Regions from separate parts of the Homo sapiens genome. Here regions 1 and 2 are each linked to region 3. Evidence: fine-mapped expression QTL. A gene starts in region 3. Each other region holds a variant in brackets. All regions are shown on one strand. Distances are between the middles of the regions.

Evidence for each region. PIP is the estimated chance that this variant, and not a neighbour inherited with it, causes the effect.
Region 1: its variant is fine-mapped to the expression of MAEA in thyroid (GTEx, PIP above 0.99). The same link has a PIP of 0.9 or more in spleen, testis and visceral fat.
Region 2: its variant is fine-mapped to the expression of MAEA in whole blood (TOPMed, PIP 0.95).

The regions. Positions count from the first base shown.
Region 1 is chr4:1,328,415-1,332,467 of GRCh38, forward strand. The region is part of intron 5 of MAEA (macrophage erythroblast attacher, E3 ubiquitin ligase); the gene reads left to right. Among named protein-coding and RNA genes, the nearest start is that of UVSSA, 17 kb to the right of the region's middle. The variant A/G (reference allele first, on the strand shown) is at 2,123.
Region 2 is chr4:1,220,942-1,224,994 of GRCh38, forward strand. The region is part of intron 5 of CTBP1 (C-terminal binding protein 1); the gene reads right to left. Among named protein-coding and RNA genes, the nearest start is that of CTBP1-AS, 13 kb to the left of the region's middle. The variant C/A (reference allele first, on the strand shown) is at 2,139.
Region 3 is chr4:1,288,222-1,292,274 of GRCh38, forward strand. It overlaps MAEA (macrophage erythroblast attacher, E3 ubiquitin ligase), which reads left to right and starts at 1,670. Exons shown (of 9, transcript NM_001017405.3): 1 at 1,670-1,761. The coding sequence starts at 1,693. LOC105374347 (a long non-coding RNA gene) reads right to left here and starts at 1,350. Exons shown (of 3, transcript XR_925046.3): 1 at 664-1,350. LOC105374346 (a long non-coding RNA gene) reads left to right here. Exons shown (of 2, transcript XR_925043.3): 2 at 1-73. RefSeq lists silencers at 1,191-1,600, 1,701-1,980, 3,069-3,251.

The DNA.
Region 1 (4,053 bases), 40 kb after region 3:
TCGGGGCAGGGCTGCTCCTTGAGTGCTAGGTCGTCTCACTCACTTTCATGGAGGTTCCTGAGCGGCCAAGCCTTGCGGTGACGCTTGAGTTGCTGTGTGGGGTGTGTGGGCCTGGCTGGCCCTCAGCTCCCGGGCGAGTGCCCAGCAGGTGTGTTTGCCAGGAGGGGGCACCTGTCCATGCCCACAGAAACCCGACCGCGACTCCATATCCACCTGCAGTGGGCCGGGTGGCCGAGTGTTCCACAGAAGGCCCATTTGGAGAAGTGGGCGTCTCACGATGAGGTGCTGAGGGTGGTCCCCAAGACGCACGGCAGAACCGCGGCAAGTCCCTGCCCTTGCGTGGACCCTGGAGAGGCCCGGGGTCCTGCTCCGGCTCCTGATGCTGACCTGGGCGCATGGTGGCAGGTCAGGCCTCGTCTTCACGCACGAGGGAGCCAGGCCTGCAACGAGGTCCCTTCTGTGCCTGAGAGGGCTAAAGCGGGGATCTCGGGACCCGGGCCAGTGGAGAGTGGCGTGTGAGCATTGCGGGGACACGGCCAGGGGCCCCCTGTCAAGAGGAGGGGCTCCCGCTCTGCTCTGGCCTCCGTGTGGCCTCGGTGCCTGTGTCGCTGGCCTCTGTCCGGCGGCAGTCTGCTTCCATCCCGAGTCAGCCTCCGTCTCCTTGAGGGCCCCGGCCACTGTCAGCCCTGGAGTCTGAAAACAAAACGTGTCCATCCCGGAGTCCCTCCGTCACAGATGTCTTCATCTAGGTGGCAGCTGGTTCCGCATAGGGTCTGTTGACCTGTTACCCCCACTCCGCATAGGGTCTATTTGCCTGTGTTACCCTGGCTCCGTGTAGGGTCTGTTTACCTGTGTTCCCCCCGCTCCGCGTAGGGTCTCTTTGCCTGTGTTCCCCCCGCTCCGTGTAGGGTCTCTTTGCCTTGTTCCCCCTGCTCTGGGTAGAATCTGCCCTAGAGACTCGCGGGGCCTCCACCTCATAATGTCTGAGCCGAGCTCAGAGCTGTGCCCTCTGCGGCCTCGTCTGTTGCAGGGGAGCAGGCAGGTCCCAGGAAGTGCGTGTCCTTCCTCCCGCAAGCAGACACGTGCTGCCTCGAAGCCTCAGCAGCCAGCCGGGCAGGCATGGCAAACAACACCCCAGTGTCTCGGGGGCAGGCGCAGTGTGAGCTACATCCTCTGCTGGGGCCGTCTTGGGAGTGGTTCTCCAGGTGCCAGGGCCTGGTCAGGGAAGTCCGGCCTCAGCTCAGCGTGGCCCTGGAGCCACCCACAAGGCACACGGGAGCTGGGCTGGGGTGGCAGGTGGGGCATCGGCAGGACGTTTGTGGGGTGAGGGAGTGCGGGTGTTTGGCTGGGAGCCCAGAGGGTGTTGTGTATCACTCACTGAGGCTGGACAAGAGGGAAGGCGGAGAAGCCTGGCCACATGTCTCCTGAGGGCTCCAGGCAGGGCCCTCTCACCTGCTGCCAGGGTCCCAGCCCGCAGGAGCTTCCCGTCCACCTCTGAACTCACGGTCCACATGGCGCTGGAGCGTCGGGCACCATCTACAGGGCTTGAGGCCAGCAGCCTAGCCTCTGGGTCCACTGGGGCAGGCAAGGTGAGTCCTGCTGTCTGTGGAGCCAGCGTGCTGGGCCGGGCAGGGGGCCTCGTTGGCTGGGGTGGCTGCAGCTCCGCCCTGCCTGGGGCATTTGTGGGTTTTTGCGAAATGCAAAAGTATGAGCTGCTAGTGATTAACTTTTAACGCCTTTAATTTTTAGTAAATGAGTAAGTGAATCCCTGACCCCAGGCGGCTGGGACCTGGCCTGTACTTCATGGGCTTTGTGTGAGCAGCTCCGTGCCGTCTGTCGCACACCCACACCTCAGCCTGGCCAGGCACAGTTTAGGAATTTTGTCTTCTGGGTGTTTCTCTCTCTCTCTCTTTCCGTGTGTGTGTGTGTGTGTTTTGAGGTTGAGTTTTGCTCTGTTGCCTGGCACAATCTCAGCTCACCGCAACCTCCGCCTCCCGGGTTCAAGTGATTGTCCTGCCTCAGCCTCTGAGTAGCTGGGATTACAGGCGCCCACCACCACGCCCGGCTAATTTTTGTATTTTTAGTAGAGATGGGGTTTCACCATGTTGGCCAGGCTGGTCTC[A/G]AACTCCTGACCTTGTGATCCGCCCACCTTGGCCTCCCAAAGTGCTGGGATTACAGGCGTGAGCCACCGTGCCTGGCCCGTGTGTTTATATTTTTAAAGAAAAATGGAAGTTTTTGTGTTTCTTATGTTAGCTGCATTTAGTTTGTTAAAAGTCACGGTTTTGTTTCCCCTGTGTCCTGTGGATGCATACCGTGCTGTTCTCCCCGGACCTGCTCTGAGGGCCCCACATCTCGGCTGCAGTTCTCTGTGTGTTGGGGCTGAATGCTGGCATCAAACGATCTGAAAAGAGTCAGCCGCCACTGTTAGGTTTTCTGTTTCTGTCTTGGGGTCAGGATTTGTGGATCAGGGACCTGGGGTGCGAGGTGAGGCAGCTTGTTAGGCGGATGATGTCTGTCTGGGGTTTGATTGATGGTGAGATAAGACGCGTAAACCAGGTCATGCAAATGAGATCTTGTAGATGTCAACCACGGAGATTAAATTTCCTCTCTTCAGCAGCTCTGGGAGGAGGTGAGATGCCCGTTGGCCGTGTTCTGTGCACGTCTTGGCGTGTGACGAAGGGTGACTTGTCTCCAGAGATGGAATGAGGGGGTTGGGTGGGGCTCCTCCTGGACTCAGACCCACGCCCACCCACACGCTCCAAGGAGGGGGATGCATGGGCACTGGAATCTCGGATGGCCGTCCCCAGCCCCTGCACACGCACCCTGCGGGGTCAGCCGTGTGGACTCACCCCCGACTCCCAGTCCCTGTATGCACCCTGCGGGGTCGGCCGTGTGGATTCACCCCCGACTCCCAGGCCCTGCACAGGCCCTGGGGCGTCAGCCATGTGGACTCCCCAGGCTGGGTCCCAAGCGTGGACGCCCCCCACTCCCTGCTGCCCCGGGCTCTCCTGGTGGTGCTTCCAACACGTGGTCCCCGTGCTATCCATCAAGGGGCTGCTGGGCCACCTCCTACACTAACTCCAGTCTCTGCGAGACACTGCATCTTCTCCAAGGCCACCGTGAGCGCCTGGCACCTCCTCAGCCCTGTGTTCCTTGGTACATGCCTTGTTCTGGACAGCACAGGGCTGACTCACACATGGGACTTGAGGCCCCTGGTTCTGTGCATTGGGGTCGCTTTGGCAGAGGGGCCCTGAGGGCTGAGAACGTGGGGTGCACAGGGGCCCGTGTGAGGGTCAGGACATGGGGGTGCAGGCCCTCAGGACAGCCAGAGGGACAGTGACCCTGTGTGTGGGGGGGGGCATGAGAATGGGGGCCCTGGGGGTGAGCAGGTGCCCGCTGGTCAGCTTGAAAGGGATCTGTTATGTTCTGCTTTGGTTTCTTGGTTGCCCAGCCTTAGACTGGAGTGGGGTTCTGGCCTGGAGTAGGCCTGTGTGCATCCCGCAGAGTTGGCTCAGGAAAGATCGTGGCTGCATGTGGTGTGTGGCACGCTCAGGGCTGAGAGGGCTGGGCCGGATCTGCAGGGAGTCCAGCCTGTGGGCTGAGGGAGGCTGTTCTTCGGAAGGTTGTGCTGGGCGTCACTGCCAAACAGCAAGGACTGCAGTTGAGAAGACTACACGTTCTTGGTCCGCTGGGGCCACGGGGTCCGTGGGGGCGAGCATCTGGGGAGAGTGGGAATCCTCAGGGTTTGGGTTCCTTGTAAACCAGAATCGCTTTGGAGAGCCCTCGGGGGCAGGTGCCATTTGCAGTTCTGGTGTTTTCCGTGGGTTGTCTGTGTGGCTTGGGTGCCCTGGTCCCCTGGAGGAAGGAGTGTCTGGTAGCTGCTCCTCCAGCCTCTGGTGAGCCGCACCTCCCGCCATCCCAGCCCCACCCAGCAGGTCGGCTTGGAGTGAGGCGATTACTTTGTACCTAGACTCTGACATAAAAGCTGTTAGCTCAGATTTTTCAACTTAAAAATGCAGGCCGGGTGCAGCGGCTCATGCCTATAATCCCAGC
Region 2 (4,053 bases), 67 kb before region 3:
CACCTAAAAAACGGGTGATACGCTGGGCTTCATAAAAACTGAAAACGTGTTCTCGTCACAGAGAGAGGTCAAGAAAGTGAAAAGTCAAGCCACGGCCTGAGATATTCGTAAACAAGAAAAAACAAAAATTTTGAAATTATGAAAATATCCACAATGCATGTCGATCTGACAAGAACCTGACGCAGACCACGTGAGGGCTTCGTAACCAACACGAAAAAGACGGCCGGAGGTGCTCCGAGTGGCCAAGGGCACAAAGAGGTGCTCAGCCTCCTCACTTATCAGGAAACTATAGGTTAAAATTAAAATATCACAAAATACCTGCTGGAAGGGCTAGAATTACACAGAGTGCTGGCAAGGATACGCGGCTGCCGGAGCATGACGCCGCGCCCCTGCCTGAAGAACAGCGACTCCTTCCAGGCGAAACAATGTCCTGCTCTGGGACTCAGAAATTCCACTCCTAGGTACAAACCCAAGAGACGTGAGTCTATGTGCACAAAAAAGACGGGCAGAAATGTGTTCACACAAGTTTTGTTTGTAATATTAGCCAAAAACTTACAAAATGCATCACCAAGAGTCTGGAGAAGCAAATCGTGCTGTGTTCACGTGATGGAACCGTTATCAGAAACTGCTGGGTCGTATGAAAACACAGGTGAGACCCAGAGGCATCACCCCGACTGACGGGAGGCGGACACAGAAGGCTGCGTGCCCGTGATCCCACCTCGGCACAGCTGGGGAAGGCCCTCTGCTCTAGGAAGCGGGACCCGGGTCCTCGCAGGGTCGTCGCGGGGCCGCCACGGGAGAAGGGGGCCCGAGGGAGCTGTCTGTGTGCAGGAGCCTGCTCTGTCAACGTGCTGGTGGGTTCATGGGGTGAATGTGTACAATGTTTTCCTGTGTGCACCTAAGACAGTGCATTTTTCAGAAGGAAGGAAGGAAGGGAAGGAGGGAGGAAAGAAAGAAACAAGAAGGAGATGTAAGTCACGGGCACCAGAGCCTCGTAGAGCAGAGGAAGCGGCCGCCCCCTAGTCTGCGCCGAGTGGCACCAACACCGTGAGCCACACGCTGCCCAGGGCTTCCACATTCCTGTAGCCACCACACACGCGGATTCCACGCTAAGAACAACCCAGACAGTGTGTGCACAGCAGAGGGCAGATGGGGACATGCACACCCTGGGAGAGCCTGAGTGGCTGGTGCCCAGCACCGGCCCCGCCTGGAGCATGAGGCTCTTCCACAGAGGGTGGGATGGGGCTCAGGGACAAGGGCGAGGGGCGGGGCGGGGGACGGGACGCAGGTGTTCTGCAGTCAAGGGTGCCAGGTGGGCAGCCGGGGTGGGGTAGGGGTCCCGTCCACAAGGTAGAGGCTGCAGCGTCAGGGGGCTCGTGTCCCTAAGGACAGAACTGCTCTCCTCAGCTCCCGAGGCCGAGGGAGCGCTGACCTGGCCTGGTTCATCACAAGATCACCACAGACAGAGGGGCCCGCGCCGAGAGCGAGGGAAGCAGCTGCCCCCCAGCAGCTCCAGGGGGGCCTGCCCGAGAGCCCACAGGACGACCTGGGCCAGTGCAGGGCAGAACGCCCATGGTAAACCCCCACAACCTGCCAGGTCCACCCTGCACTCCTCAGGACGCCGGGGTCCCCGCACCTGCAGTCCCCACCCACACTCCTCAGGCCAGGCCTGGGCGGGGGCCCTGGCAGGTGGGGTCCTTAACGAACGGGGTGGCCACAGCCCTACCCTCTGAGGGCATCCCGACCTGGGTGTTCCAACCCCCACTCAGCACGGGGCCCTGGGAGGGGCTGGTTGGGCCCAGCTCCACAATCAGCCTGGGAAGGCGCCGCCCTCAGGCCTCAGAGTGGCCACGGGAAGAGCCCGGGGCCTTCAGGGCCGGGACCACAGACCCCGACCCCAGGAGAGACAGGACACATGACTCTGGGGGCAACACACCCACCTACTCTTACCAGGGGAACTACAGACATCCCTGGCCACACAGACACAGCCCATACCCCCCCCACATCCCACAGTCCCTCGTACACCTCAGGTGAGGTGTCAGACCTGTGGCTGCAGGACAGGCGGTGACCTGCAGGCAAGGCACACATGAGGCGCCTCCTGTCCTGTGGGCTTGCTCTGGAGACAGCGGAGGCACCGC[C/A]CCCTGGACAAGGCCAGCAGGCAGTCCACGAATCTGAAGGTCCACAGAGCCCCGAGTCCCCGGCCCCTCCCGACCTCTGCCCCAACCTGGGCTTCCTGCCCACCCTCCCTCCTCCCCTCAACAAACCACACATGCGGGCCATGGCCCTGACATAGGAGGGGCCGCCCAGGCCTCAGATGGGCAGAGGTGTGAGGAACAGGCACCTCAGGGCTCTGGGATCCTCACAGGCTCCAGCCAGCCCTGGGGTCCTGGTGGGGGCACCAGCAAGACCGTGAGAGACGTGTCCAGGAAGAGACAGGCACGTGTTCCATGCACATCCGTGAACCAACCTCTCCCACTAACCTAGGTGTGGCCGCCTCACCGAGACCACCCGAAACGTCCGATTCCCCAAACGCTGGCGGGACAAGGACAGCGGTCAGCAGGAGTGGGCTGCCTGGATGTTTGGGAAGCGGGGGGCCGGCCGGTCAAGGGGAGTCCCTGGCATGGCAAGGCCCTTGCATCCCCATGGGGCCTCCTGAGGAACCCGCGATCTGGGGAGACAGGCAGCTGGGCCAAGGTGTCCAGGGAGTCTTCAGAAAAGGTACACCACCCCCGCCCACCCTCTCAGGGAGCACCTTCCCACCCCACACCTGGGCCCCGCCCAGATGCTCCCCCTCCCTCACGGGGCCCCTCACCTGGCCTCTCCCAGCTCTACTTTCCCTTAAGACATGGCTCTACTCCCAGGATCTCACACACGCACACACACACGTGCACAAACATGCACACGCTTGCCGCTCTGAGCTCAACCTGGGCCTGGCTGTGTGGGGCCGGTTCACCGCTGCATGCCGGACCCAGGACAGTGCTGGGCCCAGGATAGGCGGCTGCAAAGCGAGTGGGCAAATGAAGAGCGAGGGGTCGCTGAAAGGCAAACCACTCCCCGGGGATAGGGCCAGCGCCAGGGGCAGCTGCTGGTGACCACGGAGGAAGCCCACGGCTGCCCGAACCCCGGCCCCAGCAGGATCTACACAGCCAGCTCCAGGGGACTCAAGGGGCGAGCACATGCTAGACCGTGGTTGATGTGCGTGCCCACACATATGCCGGTATCTATCTGCGTACGTGCCCATGACTGACATCAATGTGTGTCCATGTGAGGTCATGTGTATGGTGTGATATCCATGTGTGGTGCCCATGTGTGCCATGTGATACCCGTGTGTGTGTGCTGTGACATCTGTATGTCCCCGTGCGGCCCATGTGTGTGCTGCGATGTCCATGTGTGATGTCTGTGTGGGGTCCACGTGTGTGCTGTGATGTCCGTGTGATGTCTATGCAGGCCTGTGTGAGACCCATGTGTGCTGTGTGAGGCTGTGTGTACTGTGACATCTGTGTGTTATCTGTGCGTGCCCATGAGGCCTGTGTGTGCTGTGATGTCCGTGTGTGATGTCTGTGAGGCCCACGTGTGCTGTGGCGTGTGACATCCGTGCAGGCCCGTGAGGCCCACGTGTGTGCTGTGACATCCGTGTGTGATGTCTGTGTGTGCCACGATGTCTTGTGTGAGGCCTGTATGTGTGCTGTGGTGTTGTGTGTGACATCTGTGCAGGCCCTGTGTGCTGTGACGTCCGTGCAGGCCAGTGTGAGACCCATGGGTGTGTTGTGATATCTGTGTGAGGCTGTGTGCTGTGACATCTGTGTTATCTGTGTGTGCCCGTGAGGTCCACGTCTGTGCTGTGATGTCCATGTGTGATTTCTGTGTGCGCCCGTGAGGTCATGTATACTGTGATGTCTGTGAGGCCCACATGTGTGCTGTGGCATCTATGACATCCGTGCAGGCCAGTATGTGTACTGTGACATCGGTGTGTGATGTCTGTGTGTGCCATGATGTCTGTGTGAGGCCCACATGTGTGCTCTGATTTCTGTGTGAGGCTGTGTACTGTGACAT
Region 3 (4,053 bases):
CTGAGGACCTCTTGAGGCTGTGTCACTGGTCATGATCCTTAACCTTGGCAACATAAACTTCTAAACTGATTGAGATCTGTCTCAGACACTTTTTGGTTTACAAAAGGACTAATTCAAATACAGTTTTATCTTCCAACATAAGAAAACCTAGAATGAATGACTCAAAGGTTGTAGAGGGTTAAACAACCTCTCCAACGTGCAAACCTCTGCCTTATAATTCCTAAGTATTTCTGACTGTAGATGGTACTAGGATAGGATCATTTTACCATGGAAATGAAACCCGTGTCCTTTCCTTTGGGTTAATCTTGAATCCCTGGTGAAGTGAAGGCAGTCTCTAAGAGGAGTGCAGTCCATCCAACTGCTGCAGTGCTCCTGTGTACTACTGGGACCATCCCGGAGAGTGGCAGACACGATGCGAACCGTGAAAGGACGCAAAGAGTACAGAGTGCATGCTTCCATCTCTATAGGAAGGTCAGGAACGCTGTTACGGGGAGCAGGGTTAGAATGATGGGGATATAGCCCGGGAAGGGGCAGAGGAGCTTTCTGTGCCACGGGAAATGTCCTAAATCTCAACCAGGACACGGTTAGATAAAAGTGCAAATATGGGTGAAAATTCATTAAAGCTGTATAGTTAAGATTTGTGCACCTCACTGTAAAACTTACTTCAAATGTCTAAAAGACTGGAGTCTGCAGCCACACACTTGAGGAATAACACTTTCCTTAGTCCCAACTCCTGTTTAAGTAAGACAGAGAAAGATTCCACAGTGCGGGTCGGATGTCTTGCGGCTGTAACATGTAGCAGCCTCCAAGCGGAGGTTCTCCCTTCATCGCTGTGTCACCTTAGATGTTTTTCCTTTGTTTAAACACCAAATATTTTAAAAGTTGTTTAGAAATGTGTTATGTGAAACACAAGGTGGTTTAATTGGGACGTCATTTCCTAATTAATAAAATCTAATTTCAGTTTTATTTTGGAAAGGAGGGAGACGGGTGGTGTTTGAAAGGCTGAGAATGTGAAGTGGCTGAAATGAAGGCAGCGCACGACCTGGATGCCAGCGCTGCCCGCCCTGCAAGGAGAGGGCGGAGAGGCCACACGCTTCTCATGCTTCGGGAGTTTCTGTCCATAAATCAGTTTTAGGTACTGGGCCTTTCCTCTTCCGTTGGGAAGTCGGAGGTTCCACATCAGGATTCCAGCAGCTGTAAATCGGTCAAAATAAGGCCAAAGAAAAATAGCTGGCTACAGGCGCATGCGGCCAGGCGTTTTGTTGGCGTTGCCCTTGGTACCGCAGGCACGAGGGACCCACAGGGGACCACCCCGCGGGAGCCCCAAGTAACTGGACGGACGCCAAGTCCCCCAGCCCGCTCGGCCCCAGCTCCACCCGCCCGGGCCGCAGCCCGCACCCCATCGGCCCGCCCCGGGCCAGGAGCATCCCCAGCTCCGGCGTCTGCGGCCTGAACCCGGTAGCGAATTCAAGGTGGAAACCGCCAGCCGGGGCTATCGTTGATTGGCTGAACGAGAGGAAACCCGGCAGTGATTGGTTCGCGCCTTCTTCCGCCTCCGGCCGACTGGGCGGATACGATTGGTGCAGGGGCATCGGCCCGCCCCCATCCTGCTCCGGCCGGCGCGTGGCGTCATTTCCCGGCGTGCAGCGCGCTCGCGCGTCCCCCGCCCGCTAATGTTTTGGCCGCTTCAAGATGGCGGTGCAGGAGTCGGCGGCTCAGTTGTCCATGACCCTGAAGGTCCAGGAGTACCCGACCCTCAAGGTGGGCGCCTGCGCCGCGCAGGCTGAGGGCAGCGAAGGCGTCTCCAGCCAGTGCCCTCGGGCCGCGAGGGGCCGCCCCGGGAGGGCCAGCGGCGAGGGCGGCGGGAGCTGGGCGCGGCCTCGCGGGGCCGTGCGGGCTTCTCAGGGGCGCCCGGTCCGCGCCGGGCAGGTGTGGCGGGGGCGGCGGCTTTGGCCCTGCCAGGCGCCCGACTGTGGCCCCTCTGCTTGAAGAGCTGCGTGAGCCGAGCCAGCGACGACTCTGGCAGCGCTAAGGGTGGCGAATTTGGGGCTGGGGTGGAAGCCGGAGTTTGCGGGGCGTGGGGTCTCTGGCGCCCAGGCAGACGGAGTGCGCGGCGTGCCCAGCCAGTGCCCGGCCGCCCTCCCGGGAGCCCAGGGCTGGGAGGTGCCGGCTGCGCCGGTCGCTAGTTAGGAACTGTAGGGAGAAACCTCACGGCCTGATGGCACCCAGCGACCTTTTTGATGGGCGTCACCAAACCTGAAATACAGCTCTTGCCGTCCGGCTGCCGGTTGCGTGACCTTGGGTGGTCACCTAGCCACGTCGCACTTCTTAGAATGAAATTTGTGCTCCTAGTAGAAGGAGCCGATACTTGTTCTTTACCTAGTTAGTAGAGGATTTGATATGAAGCACCTGGGAAGGAATTCCTTAAAAGATCAAGGTCATAGCTTTCCTAGAGCTGCGGCTGAGCTTCGTGGTTCTGTGTTGCCTTCCTGGAGAGCTGCGTAGTTTCTCTCTCCTCCCAGAGCGCCCTGGTGTTCACGTCCGTCTGAGGACGGACGGTGTGGCGACAGGTGTGGAGGATGCAGTATGGCCAGGTTGCTGTGCGTTCCCCCAGCCCCAGGGCAGTTCAGCGAAGGGCTGAAGAGCACAGGCTGTGAGCCATCCTGCTGGGGTGTGAATCAGGCTTCTCTGTATTCGTCCTTACTGGGAGACATCAGGGCCCGGTTGGTGACTGTTTATTCTTGTCAGGTTTAAGCAGTGGTAGCGCCTGTGTCACCTCAGGGTGAAATGAGTGACCACGTATTGTTTCAAACAGTGCCTAGCATTCATTAAAAGGTCCCTGCTACAGTTAGCGCTGCTGAAGTCAGGCTGTACCCTGCTGTAGCTGGTCTTCATAGGAAAGCAGAAGCAAGCTTCTCCTCCTCTTTATTAACTAGCGGTTTATTTCATATTTTTAAAAAGAAACGGGGTTTCACTGTTGCCTAGGGTGGTTTTGGATTCCAGGACTTAAGCGATCCTCCTGCCTTTTGACCTCCCAAAGCGCTGGGCTGACAGGTGTGAGCCACGCGCCCGCCACACTAATGGTTTCGCAGTGGGGTTTCATGGTGCTTGTGTGTCCAGCACTTCTTTTGATCAAGGAAGGGAGGGCAATGTTGCTGACGTTACCAAAGGTCTAGCCTCTTGCTAGATCCCTCCAAGATGTAGGTGGTTGGTTTTTAATACTCAGTGACATTGGTGGATCTCTGTTGGTTTAGAGATGGAGACCCTGCAGCTGAGAGAAGTCTATACAAGGACATTGTGGTGATATTAGTAGGGAGTCCTAACCACTGACCACTTTGTCTCACGCAGTGCACCTCCAGGCCTGTCATTTCAGCTAACACACAAGAAGGTTTGAAGATCAGAACCGTGGTGGTTTGTCACTTCTGGTACTGGCTGGTGAATGTGGGAAACACTAGATAGGAAAAGTTTCCAGAAATCCTTTCATTGTGTATTGAAGGAACTAGGAAGGGAGATGGAAGGTCTCCGGAAAGGATTCTTCTTCAGGTCTTCTGCTGTTTTGTAATCGTGAATGTAATTTGTATTCCAGAGTGATTGCATAGCTTCTGATTAAAATAGTCATGCAGATAGTCATACAGGTAAAGAAATATTATAGTGTCATAATTTCTCTGTTGACACTTGTGTCACTACTGAGTTAAAACTTTTTTTCATAGAAGTTTTCAGGAGTGATTCCTAGTGGATAATGGAGGTGTTTTGCTGGGAAACTAGGGATCCTTGATTTAGAAGCATTTATTGGTATAGAACTAAACAGAACATGCTGAGCTCACAGCTCAAGAGCTGCACTCTTCAGTTTCCAGGAGGGGCCAGTGCAGATGTCAGAGAAGGGACCGAGGGCTGCAGGACCGGGGTTGTGGAAGGTGGGGGGTGGATGTTCTGCTTCTCTAGTCTGAGAGCAAGTCCTCCTGCAGGGTGGTAGCAGCTGGCATGCTCTGGACTGGATCTTCACCTGGTAATAGTTAAACTGCTTTCCTGCCATGTGAGTCCTCCACAGACTCA